Regions from separate parts of the Homo sapiens genome. Here region 2 is linked to region 1. The links come from fine-mapping of genetic effects on gene expression. A gene starts in region 1. The other region holds a variant in brackets. All regions are shown on one strand. Distances are from middle to middle. Region 1 holds the start of PAPOLG (poly(A) polymerase gamma). Region 2 overlaps PAPOLG (poly(A) polymerase gamma).

Evidence for each region. PIP is the estimated chance that this variant, and not a neighbour inherited with it, causes the effect. A credible set is the group of variants that fine-mapping cannot tell apart.
Region 2: its variant is the best candidate, but not a certain one, in a credible set for the expression of PAPOLG in blood mononuclear cells (TOPMed, PIP 0.78).

The regions. Positions count from the first base shown.
Region 1 is chr2:60,751,270-60,760,763 of GRCh38, reverse strand. It overlaps PAPOLG (poly(A) polymerase gamma), which reads right to left and starts at 4,496. Exons shown (of 22, transcript NM_022894.4): 1 at 4,269-4,496; 2 at 469-630. The coding sequence starts at 4,285. RefSeq lists enhancers at 1,137-1,636, 4,271-4,580.
Region 2 is chr2:60,793,229-60,802,722 of GRCh38, reverse strand. PAPOLG (poly(A) polymerase gamma) reads right to left here. Exons shown (of 22, transcript NM_022894.4): 18 at 9,008-9,096; 19 at 8,532-8,752; 20 at 7,948-8,013; 21 at 7,703-7,759; 22 at 637-5,661. The coding sequence ends at 5,563. Among named protein-coding and RNA genes, the nearest start is that of PAPOLG, 42 kb to the right of the region's middle. The variant G/A (reference allele first, on the strand shown) is at 5,191.

The DNA.
Region 1 (9,494 bases):
GCCCTCCAAGCTCCTTCCCACCTTGCTTTCATTAAGCCTATATTTTCCTGCTTCCTCACTGCTCAGACACCCAGGGTATCTTGCTATGCACTCTTCAAATACACCACTTCAAGAGTTCTGCCTAGAACACTTTTCCCTCAGATAGACACATGGCTCCCTCCTTCATCTTTAAATTTTCCCTTAAATGTAACTTTCTCAATGAGGCTTTCCCTGAAACCTCTACCCCCTCAGCTTTTTCTCAGTAGCACTTATCATGTGTAATATTACTCATGAGTGTCATACTGATATTATTGATGACAAATCTCTTCTTCTAACCCCTACCTAAAATGTAAGCTCCAAGAGGGCCAAGATTTTTCTTTTTGTCATTTCTGCACCTGTATCTAGAGACACAGTAGGTATTCAATATGTTCGCAGAATTAATGATTAAATAATGCACTGTCAAATATTTTATGGTTTTCAATGACATACCTGTGGTTCAATTCTTCCTCATCTTCAAACACTCCAAATGGTTTCATGGCGTCAATTAATTTCTGTGTGTAAATATGATCAATTTCTTTAGGAGATGCCAAACTAATTGGGGAGGTAATTCCATAATGCTTTTGTTGACGCTGGCTGTCCAGCACGGTGTTTCTGTTCAAGAAAATAAGAAAAATGAAACAAAAAATTTAAAGTATATACCATACTGATACACTGAATCTCTCAATCTACTCATGTTAATTTAGCTACCTTAAAAGTTTACTTAGTAATAACAGTAGTGGCAGACACTTTCTTGTAAAGGAAAAATGGGTATTTTATGTTTATGTTTATGAAGGGGCTATTCATACTGCCTGCAGCTTTCATGGTTAGGATGTTTTTTCAAGCCAAGCGCAGCATGTGTTGGCATCAAGACAATTGTACCAACACCACTCAGCTCAAACCCAGAGTTTGATTGGGATCTGTGCCAGGGCCACCTCCACTACCCTGCAGACTTAAGTCAAGTGCCATCCAGATTCTAGAATCTTTGAAAAGCAGTCAACCACTTGAAATAAAGCTTTTAGTAAAAACAATGGGTTTTTTTCCCCAGGAAAGAAATGAAAACATCCCATTAGAAGGTCCTTGTGAAATAATCTGGCTTTTAAAAAGAAATCACAATTAGATTTGTCCTTGGGAAACCGAGGTTAACATCCTCTGCTTGAATCAGAGTTTACAGTCCTAGTACTTTGTGATTCTAGTTAATTATTCTCTTCATTTTAGACTGGTACCCATACCATCTTCACATTGAAATAAAATTCTTTATACTACTGGCAATCTTTTGGAAGATACATGAGCCACCCTCCAAACATCTTAGCCATCAAGAAACTACGGTCTTGAATAAAGTACAACAGAAGTTCTGAGACTTTTTTTTCTTTTTTTTTTTGAGATGGAGTCTCTCTCTGTCTCCCAGGCTGGAGTGCATTGGGGAGATCTCAGCTCACTGCAACCTCTGCCTCCTGGGTTCAAGCAATTCTCCTACCTCAGCCTCCCAAGTAGCTGGGATTACAGGCATGTGCCACCACACCCAGCTACTTTTTGTATTTTTAGTAGAGACGGAGTTTCGCCATGTTGCCAGGCTGGTCTCGAACTCCTGACCTCAGGTGATCCAACAGTCTCGGCCTCCCACGGTGCTGGGATCACAGGCGTGAGCCCCCGCGCTCAGCCAATTCAAGTTCTGAGATTTTGAGTTTACACAAACTAATCAACTTCAAAATAAATTCTGGGACCAACAGGGGTTGGCAAAACTTCTAATTTTGCTATGAAAGTAAAAACATACACACTAAACGACCAACACTACCATTTATCTTCACCATGCTTCCATGAAGGGCCATTAACACCAAGAGTAAGAATGTAATCTCAAAATTAGAAACAATCTTTCAAGTTGAATAAATTAGCCCTGTAAAAAATAACATACAATAGAGATTGTTTAATTGTTTTTGGATTCTAACTGGTCAAAACACTGTCTTACCACTACTAAGTACACAGAGTAAGACACGCTGTAATAGCTAAAGATCTCATTAGAGGCCGGGCGTGGTGCCTCATGCCTGTAATCCCAGTACTCTGGGAGGCCAAGGCAGGTGGATTACTTGAGGTCAGAAGTTCAAGATCAGCCTGGCCAACATGGTGAAACCCCGTCTCTACTGAAAATACAAAAAATTAGCTGGGCATGGTGGCGGACGTCTGTAATCCCGGCTACTCGGGAGGCTGAGGCAGGAGATTCGCTTGAACCCAGGAGACGAAGGTTGCAGTGAACCAAGATCGCGCCACCACACTCCAGCCTGGGCAACAAGAGCGAAACTCCGTCTCAAAAAAAAAAAAAAAAAAAAAATCTCATTAGGCAGAGAGGGAGAAAGAATCAAATGGAAGATAAAATAGCCTGTATACCTTCCAAAATGACTCAAAAAAAAAAAAAAAAAAAAAAACCCCAGAAACCAAAATACTGGTTAATTTATCTTCTGTATTTATTTTGTTGTAGAACAAACAAAACTTCAATTAGTTATTTCAAGTGGTAATTTCTTTTTAAAGATTTGGCTTTTTACCTCTGAGAAAGCTAGAGCAGTGTTTTGGTATTGTTTGTGTAATACATATGTAAATATATACGGTAAGTGAATAGGACAGAGTAATTATCTACATATCTATATAGTATCACTCAATCGCAATAATCCTAAGGGGTATTGAATAAGTGCCATTTTACAGATAAGTACCTGAAAGTCAAAGAGAGGACAAGCCAGAATCTGAACTCCAAAACCTCTTTCCACTACTCCATTCTCTCCTCTCTAACTACTTCAGCTCTGACACCATGATGACGGGCCTCACTTTTTTACCTGTATGCTGACAAAGTTGGCCAACTAGCCTACTGGCCCTAAAATTCCAAATCCAGGTTCTGAACTTCCCCCATCTAGAGGGGAGGGGAAAGTAAACAACAGAATCCCACATTCCCTTCAAACCATCAATTTCACTTACAGGCAAACAACCTAGAGAAATTCTAGTTACAAGCGTACAAAGAGACACCTAAAAGAACGTTCACTGTCACATTGTAACATTAAAAACTTAGAAATAAAATAGTCACTAACAGGAAAAGAATTAAATTAGGGTGTTTTCCTACAATAGAATACAATACAATAATTAATATTAATTAATTACAACTAAAATACTAACATGAACAAAGCTCAGAGATACTATGTTGTGCTAAAGAAGTTACAGAATTCCAAGTGTGATACGAGTTATATAAAGTTTAAAAACAACTAGAACTATGCCAGTTATTATGAACACATGTGTATGTAGTAATAGCATTAAAAAACATGCAGCTCCCATGATTCGAGGGCGGAAAAAAAAGAAGTAAAATAAAAAACAGGCAGCAACGATAAACATCAAATTCAAGACTGTGGAGACATCTGGAGCAAGAGATGATTGGGACCAGAGAAGGAGGTAGGAGAGTCCTTCAGATGTATCTGGAATGCTTGATTTCTTTTTAAAATAAATACACAGATACGTATATACACACCGTGTGTGTGCGTGTGTGCATGTACGTGTATGTGTGTACAGTTACGTTTTGGGAGAAATGGGTGGTGGCTCCACAAATGATGCTTATGTTATTCTCTACATTTTTCTGCATGTTTAAATTATTTCCTAATAGACCAAAATGGAAGAAGCTACAACAAAATCTTGCCAAGTACGGGAACTGTTTCTGACTTATCAAAGTGTGAACAAGAGGTACAGACCGGTAGATGTTGTGGGTAGGTGGGGAAGCAGGGGGTGAGGGAGAGGGTGGGGACGGCGGTGAAAAGACTGTAGCCTCATATGAAAGAGAAACCCTTGGGCTGCGATAGGTCTTTCACTCCTGAAGACCTGGAGACAGCCGGTCGGGAAGGGAGGAGGGGGAGGCAGGGGGATGGTATTTGCGCCAATGCAGACAGGAGCAGACGGGCTCAGACAGTGCTGGGGGCAGGCGAGTGACCGACAATTTCTCCCTACGGACACAGGCACCTCTTTCCCTCCTCATCCTTTTCTGAGGGCGTCCTCGGAGGCGGGACAGCTGGGGACTCCCGGAGTCCCCGAGTCCGTGCAGGGGTGGCCAGGTGAGCCGCCGGGTTTAGGGGAGGTGCCCTTGCGGACCGGCCGGGAGCCGGGAAGGAGACCATCCCGGCGAGCTGCGTGCAGGGCGCAAGGGACAGGGAACGGAAACAAGGACACAGTCGGACCACCTCAGCTCACCCCTACCCGCCTCACCCCAACCGCCGCCCCCCACCACTTACGCAGACATCTCTTTCATCGCTTCCTGCGTCTCCCTCTCCAGCGAGTGTTTATCGCTCTGGAGTCCTGTTCTTGCTGTTCCCTTCTCCCCCTGTTCACTTTCCTCCGGTCGCTAGTAGCTCGCTTGCTCGCTCACTTTCCCACTTACTATGGCTGAGGCATCCAACCGAGTAGTGAAAACACCACAAAACCGGCTCTATTTATGACAATACAGCGCGGCCGACGCCAATATGGCGCCGCTTCCCAGCCTGCCTCTCGCAGGTCTCAGCCCCGCCCCTGGAGGTCTGGACCACCCTCAGCCACGCCCCCTCTGCCTTTAGGTCCCGGGAGGCTCCGGGGCCCCGCCCACAAGCTCAGGGCTCTCAGTATACCGTTGGTTCGAAGGAGTATTTATTTGGTACTCTCCTTTGTCCGCGGTACTGTCAATGCCGGTAGACCGCTTGGAAGGAAATTTGGAGATATGTTTTCCTTGCCTCTCGAATGGCAGCATATATCATACATTTTTTAAAAAGGTCACACCCTTGCCTAGCAAAAACTATTTCAACGCCTCCGTTATCCTACATCTTTGATTTAATTATAGTTATACATAATTAACTCACCAGTTGAGATTTTGTCTCGAAAGGGTCACACCCAGGAACATACGACTTTCACACAAGTATCCCAGGGAAAAACAAGCTTGTAAATTGGAGGCTTAACTGTTCACTTCACCCCTAAGTACCACCTTTGATTAGTGACATTCTGGCATTTAGCTGACAGAGGTTGAAAATAGTAGCTAGCAGTTTGCAATAGGATAAATCCCAGGCTGAAACAAAAATCTTACACTTTTAAATAGTGGAAATCATGTTCGATGTGAGTGTGGGGATGAAAATGAGAAAATAATAACCAATTTTAAAATGCTGAAAGGTAGAAGTAATTTCAAGCACTAAATCATTACAAAGAAAAGGAAGTCAAGAACTGCTTGCTCTTGAACATAACTCAGAGTCACAGTAAATAGAGGAGATTACTTGCTGATTAATTCATTAAAAAATATTTATTGAGGCAAGATACAGTGGCTCACACCTGTAATCCCAGCACTTTGGGAGGCCAAGGTGGGAGAATTGCTTGAGGCCAGGAGTTCGAGAACAGCCTGGGCAACATAGTGAGACCCTGTCACTACAAAAAGTTTTAAAAAAATTAGCTGGGCATGGTGGCCCATGCCTGTAGTCCCAGCTACTCAGGAGGCTGGGGTGGGAGGATCTCTTTGAGTCCAGGACGTGGAGGCTGCAGGAAACCAGGATGGCACCACTGCATTCCAGCCAGAGTGATAGAAGGAGACCCTGTCTCAAAAAAATAAATAAATAAATAAATAAATAAAAACTACAAAACATATTTTTGAAAACCTGAGCAAGGTGCAGTGGCTCTTGCCTGCAATCCCAGTGCTTTGTGACGCCAAGGCTGGTGGATCACTTGAGGCCATGAGTTCTATTAAGACCAGCCTGGCCAACATGGCAAAAACCCATCTCTACTTAAAAGCAACAACAAAAACCTGACGTGGCCTGGTGTGGTGGATCACACCTGTAATCCTAACATTTTGGGAGGCTGAGGCGGGTGGATCACTTGAGGTCAGGAGTTCGAGACCAGCCTGGCCAACATGGTGAAACCCCATCTCTACTAAAAATAGAAAAACTAGCTGGGTGCGTGGTGCGCCTGTGATCCCGGCTACTCAGCAGGGTGAGGCAGGAGAATTGCGTGAACCCGAGAGGCAGAGGTTTTTTTGAGATGGAGTCTCGCTCTGTTGCCCAGGCTGGGGTGCAGTGGCGTGATCTCTGCTCAGCCTCCTGAGTAGGTGGGATTACAGGCATGCACCACCACGTCCAGCTATATTTTTGTATTTTTAGTACAGACGGGGTTTCACCATGTGGGCCAGCTAGTCTCAAACTCCTGACATCAGGTAATCCGCCCACCTCGGCTTCCCAAAGTGCTAGGATTACAGATGTGAGCCACCACACCCAGCCAAGCAGTGTTTTATTATTTATTTATTTATTTATTTTTGAGATGGAGTCTTGCTCTGTCACCTAGGCTGCAGCACAGTGGCATGATCTTGGCTCACTGCATCCTCTGCCTCCTGGGTTCAAATGATTCTCCTGTCTCAGCCTCCCGAGTAGCTGGGACTACAGGCGTGCGCCACCACGCCTGGCTAATTTTTTGTATTTTAGAGATGGACTTTCACCATGTTGGCCGCACATCTCAGCCTCCCAAAGTGCTGGGATTACAGGCGTGAGCCACCGCTTCCAGCCTAATTTTTGTATTTTTAGTACAGACAGGGTTTCACCATATTGGTCAGGCTAGTCTTGAACTCCTGACCTCGTGATCCGCCAGCCTCAGCCTCCCAAAGTGCTGGGATTACAGGCGTGAGCCACCATGCCCGGCCACGGTGTTTTAATCAATTGCTTTTCTTCCCATTTTCCTGTCTTTGTTAATCTACCTGGGATTTAATGACAGTCCCTAACCCCCATCTCAATAAGGATACTGTATTTTTCCCAACCCCAATTTCAATAAGGACATTTTTCTTATTTGCAGTGTATATTGTAACTGTATTTGTTAAGTTAAAAATTTTCAAATGACAAAACTAACCCATGCGCATAAAAAAAAAGAGCGGACGTCTGTCCCTCCTTTCCATCTCTTGCCCAGGCTGGAGTGCAGTGATGTGATCTCAGCTCACTGCAACCTCCACCTTCCGGTTTCGAGTGATTCCCCTGCCTCAGCCTCCTGAGTAGCTGGGTTTACAGGTGCCCGCCACTATGCCCAGCTAATTTTTGTATTTTTAGTAGAGACAGCATTTTGCCATGTTGGCCAGGCTGGTCTTGAACTCCTGACCTCAGGTGATCCGCCTGCCTCGGCCTCCCAAAGTGCTGAGATTACAGGCGTGAGCCACCGTGCCCGGCCTGTATTTTATTTTTGAGACAGACTCTCCCTCTGTTGCCCAAGCTGGAGTGCAGTGCTGTGATCTTGGCTCACTGCAATGTCCATCTCCTGGGTTGAAGCCATTCTCCTGCCTCAGCCTCCCCAGTGGCTGGGATTACAGGTGCGCGCTACCATACCTGGCTAATTTTTGTATTTTTAGTAGAGATGGAGTTTCACCATGTTAGCTAGGTTGGTCTCAAACTCCTTTCCTCAAGTGATGTATCCGCCTAGGCCTCTTAAAGTGCTGGGATTACAGGCGCGAGCTACCTCGCCCCGCTGACATGTATATTGTAAAATAAAATTTATATACTTGAAATTGTCCTCTTAGAAGTTTATACCAGTATATGCTCCAATATGTATGTGATGATCTGTTTTCTCAAACATTCACAAATACTGGGTATTATTATTATTATTATTATTATTTTGAGACAGAGTTTCGTTCTTGTTGCCCAGGCTGGAGTGCAATGGCGCGATCTTGGCTCATTGCAACCTCCGTCCCCTGGGTTCAAGCGATTCTCCTGCCTTAGCCTCCCGACTAGCTGGGATTACAGGTGCCCACTGCCACGCTGGGCTAAGTTTTTGTATTTTTAGTAGAGACGGGGTTTTGCCATGTTGACCAGGCTGGTCTCAAACTCCTGACCTCATGTGATCCACCCTCCTTGGCCTCCCAAAGTGCTAGGATTACACGCATGAGCCACTGCACCTGGCCAAATATCTTTTTTTTTTTTTTTTTATGGCTGGATATGGTGGCTCCACGTGGTGGCTCCGGCCTGTAATCCCAGCATTTTGAGAGGCTGAAGCGCGTGAATCACTTGAGGCCAGGAGTTCCAGACCATCCTGGCCAACAGGGTGAAACCTGACCTCTACTAAAAATACAAAAATTAGCTGGTCATGGTAGTGCACGTCTGTAATCCCAGCCAGTTGGGAGGCTGAGGCACAAGAATTGAGTGAACCCGGAAGTGGAAGTTGCAGTGAGCCAGTACACTCCAGCCTGGGTAACAGAGGGATACTGTCTCAAAAAAAAAACCAAACCAAAACAAAACAAAAAACAAAAAACCAACCATAAAAGCAACTTTTGGCCAGGTACAGTGGCTCACACCTGCAATCCCAGCACTTTGGGAGGCCGAGGTGGGTTGATCACTTGAGGTCAGGAGTTCGAGACCAGCCTGGCCAACATGGTGAAACCCCGTCTCTACTAAAAATACAAAAAAATTAGCTGGGTGTGGTGGTGGGTGCCTGTAATCTCAGCTACTCTGGAGGCCGAGGCTGGAGAATGGCTTGAACCCAGGAGGCGGAGGTTGCGGTGAGCCGAGATCTCGCCATCGCATTCCAGCCAGGGCAACAAGAGTGAAACTTCGTCTCAAAAACAAACAAACAAAAAAACCCAAAAAACAACTTTTTAATTTGGCTGGTTGTGGTGGCTTATGGTTGCAATCCCAGTACTTTAGGAGACTAAGGCAGGAGGATCCCTTAAGCTCAGGAGTTGAGACCAGCCTGGACAACTGCAAAACCACAACTCTATTTAAAAAAAAAGTTTTTATGCTTATAAAAAAACTATAAATATACAGAAAAAGTAGAGAGAATAATATAATTAACACCATATACCCATCATGTAGAATTTTTTTAGCATTTGGTCATGTTTCACACATTTTTCAGTGAAATCTTTTTAAGTAAACACATAAAATTTTACTCCTAAATATTTTGATATGCATATCTAATGAGAACACTTTCCTGTACAACCATAATAATATTAATACACTCAAGTATTTCCACTTGTTGCCCAAATATCTTTTGCACCAAGCTTGTTTATAGTGTGATCCAATCAAGAAGTATGATTGCATTTGGTTGTTGGGTCTCTGAAATGGCTTTTTTTTCCTTAAAAGTATTTTTTAATTAGCTGGGCGTGGTGGCAGGTGCCTGTAATCCCAGCTACTTGGGAGGCTGAGGCAGGAGAATTGCTTGAGCTCGAGAGGTGGAGGTTGCAGTGAGCTGAGATCGCACCACTGTACCACTGCACTCCAGCCTGGGCGACAGAGCGAGACTGTCTCAGAAAAAAAAAAAAAAAAAAGGGGCTTTATTTTTTAAGAGCAGTTTTAGGTTCATAGCAAAATTGAGAAAAAAACAAGTATTTCCCATGTGCTGCCTCCCCCAAGACATGCATAGCCTCCTCCATTATCAACATCCTGAAATATATTTTAATCTAGAACAGACTTTCTCCCTAGCTTTTTATTTTTCCTGTGACATTGATTTGTAGAGAGTAGACTAGTATTTCCTTAGAATGTTCC
Region 2 (9,494 bases), 42 kb before region 1:
CCATAGCTCAATCAATGCAGACTTTGCCAATTAGCTTAATAAATGTCAAATGTGTTTCCATTGGTGACATGAACAGCTTGCTAGTAATACTAACGACGCAGACACAAGCTCTTATTTGTGAATTCAGCACTAGCACATGGATTGGCTAAAAACCAGTCACTGTCCATTCTTACAAGAGGTTTAAGAATGTAACGAGCCCTGTAACCTGTACTTGTATGCATAGTACCCACAGCTTGATCCTGTGTCCAGCCATTATTAGTACGGAGGACTGATTGCCTGATCCTGATCAGAAGGGTGACAGAATTTTGCCCCTAGTGCTTGACATAGACACCTCAAGTGGCCTTTTCATGAAAGGGTGGTCAGACCACCAAAAGGGACAGAAAGCTGGGACACTCCATTAAGGTTATAGAGCAGACTGTATAAACTGTTGTGCCACCGCTTGCTGATAAACGTTTAATAAATGATTCTGTGTGATGCACATTAGGTCTGAGCTTTGCATTCATACTAAGTGGGTAGTAGATACCATTATCTACCAAAAAGAGTCTGAGTGGTAAATGACAAAATTGGTTGTCACTGAAAAGTTAAGACTTCTGGTACTTTTGAGTTAGTCCCAAATAACATCACTCAATCATCACCTATTTATCAAAGCAATTTTATTTGATTACTTATTCCAGGCAAATAATGAGGTTCATGTGTACAACTAAGAAATCAGACAATCCAAATAAAAGGCAGGGTAAATTAATATGAACTACACAAACAGCTAGCTAGAAAGGAACAGCAGCTCCATTCATTTTACATAGTACTGTAGAGTGATGTAGCACCATTAATCTCAAAGATATCCTAAGTACTTTCTAAGATAAGTACGTGGGTCTTTGTTCAAATGTAGCAATAGCTTAAAACTTATAGCAAGCTTGATGATCATCTTATGTTCAACTAATTTCAAATATAAAAGTATATCCGAAAAATTATTTCAGAAAAAATAGGGGCTGGGCACGGTGGCTCACGCCTGTAATCCCAGAACTTTGGGAGGCCGAGGCGGGTGCATCACTGGAGGTCAGGAGTTTGAGACCAGCCTGGCCAACATGTTGAAACCCCATCTCTACAAAAATTAGCCAGGCCCACATGGTGGCGGGCGCCTGTAGTCCCAGCTACTTGGGAGGCTGAGGTAGGAGAATCGCTTGCACCTGGGAGGTGGAGGTTGCAATGAGCCAAGATTGCGCCACTGCATTCCAGCCTGGGTGACGGAGCGAGACTCCATCTTAAAAAAAAAGAAAAGAAAAAATAGACAATTTGGGGGATGACGTGACCTTATGCAATTGGAAAAAAAAAACCATTATTGAGACTGGTTTTCTTCCATCATCTGCACTATTTGCTACTATGACCAATTTAAATTCTAAGCTTTGGATGATTTAATAGGTAGTTATTTGAACACACATACAATTTTATTTATACAAAGTTTTTTTTTTTCCCTAAACTATCACTTTTATATTTATTGGTCTGTTTAGTTTGTTCTGGCCTGAACTACAAACATGGAGGAGCAAGAGAGTTTTCATGCTACAGAACTCAACATTTTGGGATCTTTAATGATTTATTCTATTTTCTACCATTTCTAATGATCATTCTAAGCTATTGTACTGTGATAATATTGGGTTGAAATTTGTTGAACTAAAGTTTGACCCTGTTAACGAATCTAAGTTATCATGAGGCCATCTGTAAATCTGAGATTAAGCATTTTTCTAAATACCGAGGACTTTACAGTTTCATTTTAGGTTATAAACTTAGAAATTCAGAATTCCAGAGTCCCTCACCAGCCCATTTTACTAGTTAGGAGCCACAGCACATTTTCAGAAATATACCACAGCAAAATCAAAAGTAGAAAATTATATAATATTCCAGGATTATTCAATCCTGGTGGTTCCTAACCCTAACTCCCATACTTTTGCCACTTCGAGAAGCTGATCTAAACTATGCACTTTCCCCAAGAAAAATGCATGTAAACTAGAACTTCTTATACACAATTATAAAGGATTCCCTAAGGGTTCATGATTCTCAAGTTAGGAATTCCTATTTCAAAGGTGTGGAACATAGTGGAAAATAAGTTTAGCCCATTTTGATATTGCCCATCTTTACCTAATTGCTACTATAGTGAAGTAAGCATTTTAATAATGCTACTAAATTGCTGCTTTAAAACAAAGCACTCATTTTAAACACTAACATAGATTTTTAAAATTCATTCTCCTGGCTGGGCACAGTAGCTTATGCCTGTAATCCCAGCACTTAGGGTGGCCGAAGCAGCCAGATCACTTGAGGTGAGGAGTTCAAGACCACCCTGGCCAACATGGTGAAATCCCATTTCTACTGAAAATACGAAAATTAGCTGGGCATGGCACAGGCCTGTAATTCCAGCTACTTGGGAGGCTGAGGCAAGAGAATCACTTGAACCCGGGAGGCAGAGGTTGCAGTGAGGTGAGATCATGCCACTGTGCTCCAGACTGGGTGACAGAGTGAAACTCTTGTCTTCATAAAAAAATAAAAAATAAAAAAATAATAATTCTCCTGTCCCAGTTTTACAAAGTTTTAAGCCATGTACCTCTATCTTGAATTGGTTAAGTCCCTAAGGTTTAAGCTAGCAGGTAATTGTTTTCCTTTCATACATATTCTCCAGAGCTACTGAAAAATGAGCAAATTAAAATGTAATGCCCTTGTGAAAATGAACATGTGTCTATATACTGAAGAACAGATTATTTGACTTCATAAAATATACTTCTAGGTATTTTTTCACACTTGAAAACAAACACGGCCGGGTGCGGTGGTTCACGCCTGTAATCCCAGCACTTTGGGACGCCGAGGCAGGTGGATCACCTGAGGTCACAAGTTCGAGACCAGCCTGGCCAACATGGTGAAACGCTGTCTGTACTAAAAATACAAAAATTAGCTGGGCGAGGTGGTGGGTGCCTGTAATCCCAGCTACTTGGGAGGCTGAGGCAAGAGAATAGCTTGAACTCGGGAGGTGAAGGTTGCAGTGAGCCGAGATTGGGCTACTGCACTCCAGCCTGGGCAACAAGAGCAAAACTCTGTCTCAAACAAAACAAAACAAAACAAAACAAAACAAAACAAACACATGTACTTAGTGCCTCTCATCATAACACAAAATCCCAGATCATACTTTCTCCTTTTTTACTTGGAACTAGTACAATGGAAGCTTCCCACCAAGTTAACGAAATGTACTCAAAGTTCTACCTACTGGTCAGGATAGAAAATATTTTATTTCTGACAAACCCCACCATCTCAAAAGTATTTTATCAACTCCTCAGTTACCAAACAGGTTGAAGAATGCTATCTTTGAGGACTCTAATGTTGACTCATTGACATGTTGAATGGGCTCCTTAATCTAAAATAAATGCCTATCCTATAGTACAAGGTTAGACTTGTTGCTTCCTTATTAAAGAAAAACTCCACTAGTCACTCCAAAGATCTATTTACATAATGGGGTAAACATGGATACAGAAGGAATTCCTAAAGATACTTTGAAGGCTGATTTAAAAGCAAAAGATATGAAATGCAGAAATGCATACACATCCAGTATATAAAATTTAATCAAATTCCTTACTAAAGCTTTCAAAAGTTGAAGTCAGGTGATAATTCTTCGGTTCTTTCATAATCATTCATTTTTGCTCAAATAGACTATTTGTAGAACAATCCCAAAACATCTGAATAAAGGGAAAGAGTCAGCTAAGACAACAGCTTTGCCAAGGAAGCTTCAACTTGGTTATGTGATTTTATTCTTATCTTTTGCTGCTATATAAAAAGGGAATAATAGAACAAACATTTTTTTCCTTGTTGTTCTTTACTTCTAAGACTCTTTTCATGTTTTCCATGGTACAAGGTAAACATTAGAATTTACATTTTGGAGACCTAAGGGGCAATGAACAGGAGTGGGACCTGGAGGATACGGCTCTCTGGCAATTCAAGAATTTCAACTCAATGGTAAAGGGCTTGCAAGAGAAAATGGACTGCTATTTCTCCACTTGCTAGATGGCATCCCGTGAGTCCTATAATACACGAGGTGTCTTCCCCACACTACTCAATGTACCATTTTGGGTTTTTCCTACTGGACCTACTAAATGCTGAGTGAAATCTAAAGAAGGTGGTAGATACTAGCATTCCTGGCTGTGTAATCTATACATTTTCATTTTAAATATAGTAATTCAAGCATAATCCATATTTAAAAAATTAGACTAAGGAGAGACAATAAAGGTTTTAAACGTTTCTCTTTGAAAAGATGGTATCTTACAGTACATACAAAAATACTCTGAAAATACATACGACTTCATTTACAAAACACTGAATCAACATATTACAAGAATTACATGGTTATGGATTTTAATAAACTGAGCATGCATTCATGAAACTTAAAAAATATTAAGAAATGCATTGAAAAAAGCAGCGTAAAAAAAGACAACTCATATAGTTAAATAAAAATTACAAAGGTCCTGAGCCAATTAATGGTTGGTAACAATGTCATTCAAAATGCCTTTAGGTTTCAATAAAATCCACTGCTTATTTCTGCATGCCTAGTCCGTGAAGAAACTATTTGAAGTTGTGGGGTAAATAATGATCAGGAATTATCATGCCAAGTTAATTTTACACCTCAAAAATACAAGTGTGCCATACTTAAAGGTTATCTTATTGTTGATGCTGGAATGAGTTGCTCCTCAGTAAAAAATACCAGTCAACTAACAAGAATGGCATGAAATAGGATATGTAACAATTTTACCATTCATATACTGACTTTCAGTATCCTGGTTATATTTTGATTTTTAATAAAGATGCATTTCAAAGGCCTCCATGGGAGGCAAAATATAGAGAATTTATGGTGCCCAACTCTTATGTAATCACTGGACTAATCTTCCCTGGTAACTATGCAACATTTGGACAGAAAGGCACACAAAAAAGTTTAAATATTTCATGTGCCAATCTGGAAAAAAATAATTTAAATCAACAGAACAGACAGTACATCTACACAAATGAGGAAAGCAGAAAAGATACCTCACATTCATTTATCTCAGGTTTCAAAGTGGCTTCAATGCTAAAGTAAATGTATTAACATTTGGAAAATACAAGACAATTTTTTTGTTTGTTTTCAATTTTTTTAGCTCTATACAATGATTACAACATAAGACAAAAAAA[G/A]AAAAACACAAAAAACAAAACAAAAAAGGAGTTCAGGACTTGTTATCAGTGTCCAAGTGGCTAAGAACTGGTTCCCATAACAAGCATTGAAAGTTAAGGCAGTAAAACCCCCAAATGCAAAGCTGTAATACTGTAGATGGCAATTTGACAGCAGGTGATCCTCAGAGAAGTGTATGTAGCAATCAGTGAGAGAATGCTACAGCATCTACAGGTCAAAGTTTGACAGTTCAAAAACCACTTCAAGGTTATTAGACTGAAGGCTGTCACTTTCACCTTATTTCACGTATGACAGCCACTTCTATTTAAAAAACAAGTGGCTGCATCTATGCCACTAAATGATTGCTTGTTCACTTAAGTGAGGAGGCACTGCTTTTACCGATTAAGGGTCAGTCGAATGGAATTTTTGATGACACGGATGTTGTTTGCTGGAACTGGAGATGATGAATCTGGTAGTTCTTTACTGGGTAGTCTCTATTAGAAAGAAAGAGGAAACAAAAAAGGAAAAGCACATCATATATATTATAAAGGCCCAGCTAGAAAGTCAGTCACAAAACTTGGGGAGTTTTTCTCCCAAACCCTCTAGCTCCTAAACACTCAAGTATGCAATGAATATTTCCTTCCGTGTTCATAGGGAACTCTTGCTTTCGGAACTGCTACTTCTTTTTACAGTCAGAGGTGAAAAGCAGAGGGATAAGAGAAAGGGTAGAAGTGGCAGGAGTGTGAATATGTACAGGAAAAGAGGAACTGCCATGCCTGGATCAAGAAATGCATAAAGAACACAGTCCTTAAGGTCAAGCAAAGAAAAAAAAAAGGAAGTTCATGGTGACTAAACAGGAAGCTCTTGGGGTGTGAAGTGAAAAATGAGTGTGTGCAGTAGAGAAAAATTTAATATCTGAGAGTTATGTCCCTCAATTTGTTTCTGTAATACATTCATGAAGAAGACCACTGACTCAATCTGTGAGATACTTAAGTTCTCAGGAAAACTGAACTTTGTACTTAGGCTAGATAACTTTGATGGTTATGAAATTCAGGGACATCGGTTTGAGGGATTCTGAGGGCATTAAAGATTATTACATAAAGAAGGCAAAATCTAGGGCCGGGCATGGTGGTTCACGCCTGTAATCCCAGAACTTTGGGAGGCCAAGGCGGGCGAATCACTTGAGGTCAGGAGTTCAAGAGCAGCCTGGCCAATATGGTGAAACCCTTTTCCACTACAAATACAAAAATTAGCCACTACAAATACAAAAAGATCGCGCCATTGCACTCCAACCTGGGCTACAGAGCGAGCCTCCATGTCCAAAAAAAAAAAAAAAAAAAAAAAAAAGGAAGGCAAAATCTAGACTTCTGTAATGGGGATAGTTTCTTGTCAAGAGATGACTGCTTAATTCTCCTCTTGTTTTACCTTGGCTAAGCCAGTATCTGTATCATATCCATATGCATTAAAACAATTATGAGCAATTTCAGATATACAAAGAAGTAGACACCAGGGCAATAAGGACTTAAATGCCAAAACCAAGTTTCAGACATTATTACAATTTTGCTGCAATTGTTTGGTGTACCCACTTTCCCTTTAGACTGGATATATTAAAAAATCCAGATATGTCATTTCACTCTTTTGTACTTCAATATCCATCTCAAAATTTTTTCTTCCACCATGACACATAATTATACGTTCATATTTTTTGTAACTTAATCTTATGTTAAAGGCTCAAAATCTACAACTAATAGCCTGTGAGTATACTATTTTGCTTTAGAATAGCTACTACATCCTGGAGAACCTGGCAGGGTAACAGTTGATGAAAAGCACTTTACTATTTAATGGCCATTCTGTTTTATTATAAATTATAATTTATAATTATCATCATATATATTTATAATTATTTATCATTATTATAAATAAGCCATTCTGTTCATTATAAACTCTCAGAGAAGGTTTTTCTCTATTTACACAAGGCTGGTTTTTGAGTACTTGCTTTTTAGCATACCACACTTAATACTACACACATTTTTAGTTATAAAAGTAATTCTTCAAATAATAAACATTTAAATTACAATTTAGGGGCGTTTAGCTCATGTTTTAAAGGTACTTACTATATATACCACTACATTTGGTTCCTCTAAAATATTAATACATATGGTTCCTAATTATCAAACCTATGTTTTGGCAGTAAGCAATAGTACACAACAGAGATATACCTCCAGGTGCTTGGTAAGAAATTAATGTGCTGAGCATCCAACTGCTTCTTTAAAGATAAAAAACAAAGGGTGAACATAATCTAAATAGATAATAAAGTTGTCTTAAACTACTGCCTCTTTTTTAGACTTTTGAGGTACATACATTCAGAACTATATACTTGCTATCTCCAACCCCAACTACACTGCTAGTCCTTGGGGACAGGGACAAAATCTTACTTTTTCCCAGTGCTAGGCTCTTAATAAGCCTTTTGTACTTGTAGATTACCTATGAGTTTTTACCTATGTACTGTACCTATGAACAAGACTATCTTGTTACCTTTTTGCGTGATGTATCAATAGTTGGAATAGGCATAGATTCTCCTCCAATGGCATCCTAAAAACAGAAGAATCAACACAAGTGAAAACTAACTTTCCTATATGCAAACACTTATTTCTACTTAAAATAAAACCTAACGAAAACCTGAAAATAAATCTAATCTGACCTACTTTCTAATATGGCACTTTTCCTGATACATGGCGCTTTACAATAAATATTCTGAAGCACACTATTAATATATTTACCACTGATTTTCTTTTTCTTTCTTCAGCAGTGCGGGGGTCCTTAAATGTTGATTCAAGTCGAATAAACTAAAATATAAACATTGAAATAGATTGCTATTATGTACCTACAAAAACCCATATAAATCTATATAAACTGGAAAACTAGTTATTGGTTACACTATTATAAAAATTACTATAAACATGGATTGGTAAGAGAAGATAATTTAAATTAGATTGAATTCAACTGCCACCGTTAATTTCTACAGTTTGGGTGATCTTTTTGGTTAAATCAATTCAGATTCTAACAAATATAGTTTTACCACCACCTACTGGAAGCAGGGCATATCAACACACAAGAAATGAGATTTTGTTATCAGTAATGACTTCTGTAAATCAAGGAGAAACTCAGACCAATCATTCAAATTTTCAGACGTATTAGTAATTTCAATTTAGGATGAGCAATTAATATTGTTTCTTTAAGATTTGGGTAAATATTCTTTTCAGCCAACTCCTAACAGAACACCAACAGCTATGGAAAATTGTTTCTTTAGTATTAACTATAAAAAATATCAACTACTGAATTACCACTAAAGTTGTAACTTTACCTTTTCTACGTCTTTCAACCTCTTAGGAGTCCCATCTATGGATGGGGAATGGGATCTCTTAGGTGTAACAGTCTTAGTTATATTTGACATTCCATTCAGATGCGGTTGTCCCTGGGCAGGGTTGTGAGGTGTTGTGATTCTAGGAATGACATTTCGTCCTACTACGGTAGGAATGGTACACACAGTGGGGGGTGATACAGTTTTTACTGTAGAGTCAACTTCTGAAAAGGAAAAAAAGGATTTTAATAATTAAACATTTATGTAATTTTTTTTTCCTTGAGACAGGGTCTCTCATTCCCATCACCCAGGCTGCAGTGCAGTGGCTTGATCACAGCTCACTGCAGCCTTGACTTCCCAGGCTCAGGTGACCCTCCCACCTTAGCCTCCCCAGTAGCTAGGACTACAGGCGTGTGCCACCATGCCTAGCTAATTTTTTGTAAATATAATTATTAATATATACAAGTTTAGATACCTACTTGCGCCAATCACTGGAATGGAAAGTCCTTGGGCTGGTGGTACACTCAGTGGCTTCTCCACAATTACAGCAGCAGGCTCAGCACTATTCCTAATGAAAGTGTTAAATTATCATCAATAAATGATTTAAATATTACTTTTTTTCTCCTTTTTTGAGAAAAGGCCTCATTCTACTGCCCAAGTTGGAGTGCAGTGGCACAATCACAGCTCACTGCAGCCTCAACCTCCTGGACTCAAGTAACTTTGCCACCTCAGCCTCCCAGGTAGCTAAGAACATAGGTGTGTGCCATCATATCGGGTTAATTTTTTAAATTTTTATTTTTGTGGAGACAGGATCTCACTATGTTGCCCAGGCTGGTCTTGAACTCCTGAGGCTCAAGCAATCCTCCTGCCTCAGCCTCCCAAAGTGCTGAAATTATAGATGTGACCCACCACGCCTGGCCCCATTAGTTATTTAAAACACTCTTGTTGTAACATTTACCACTGCTT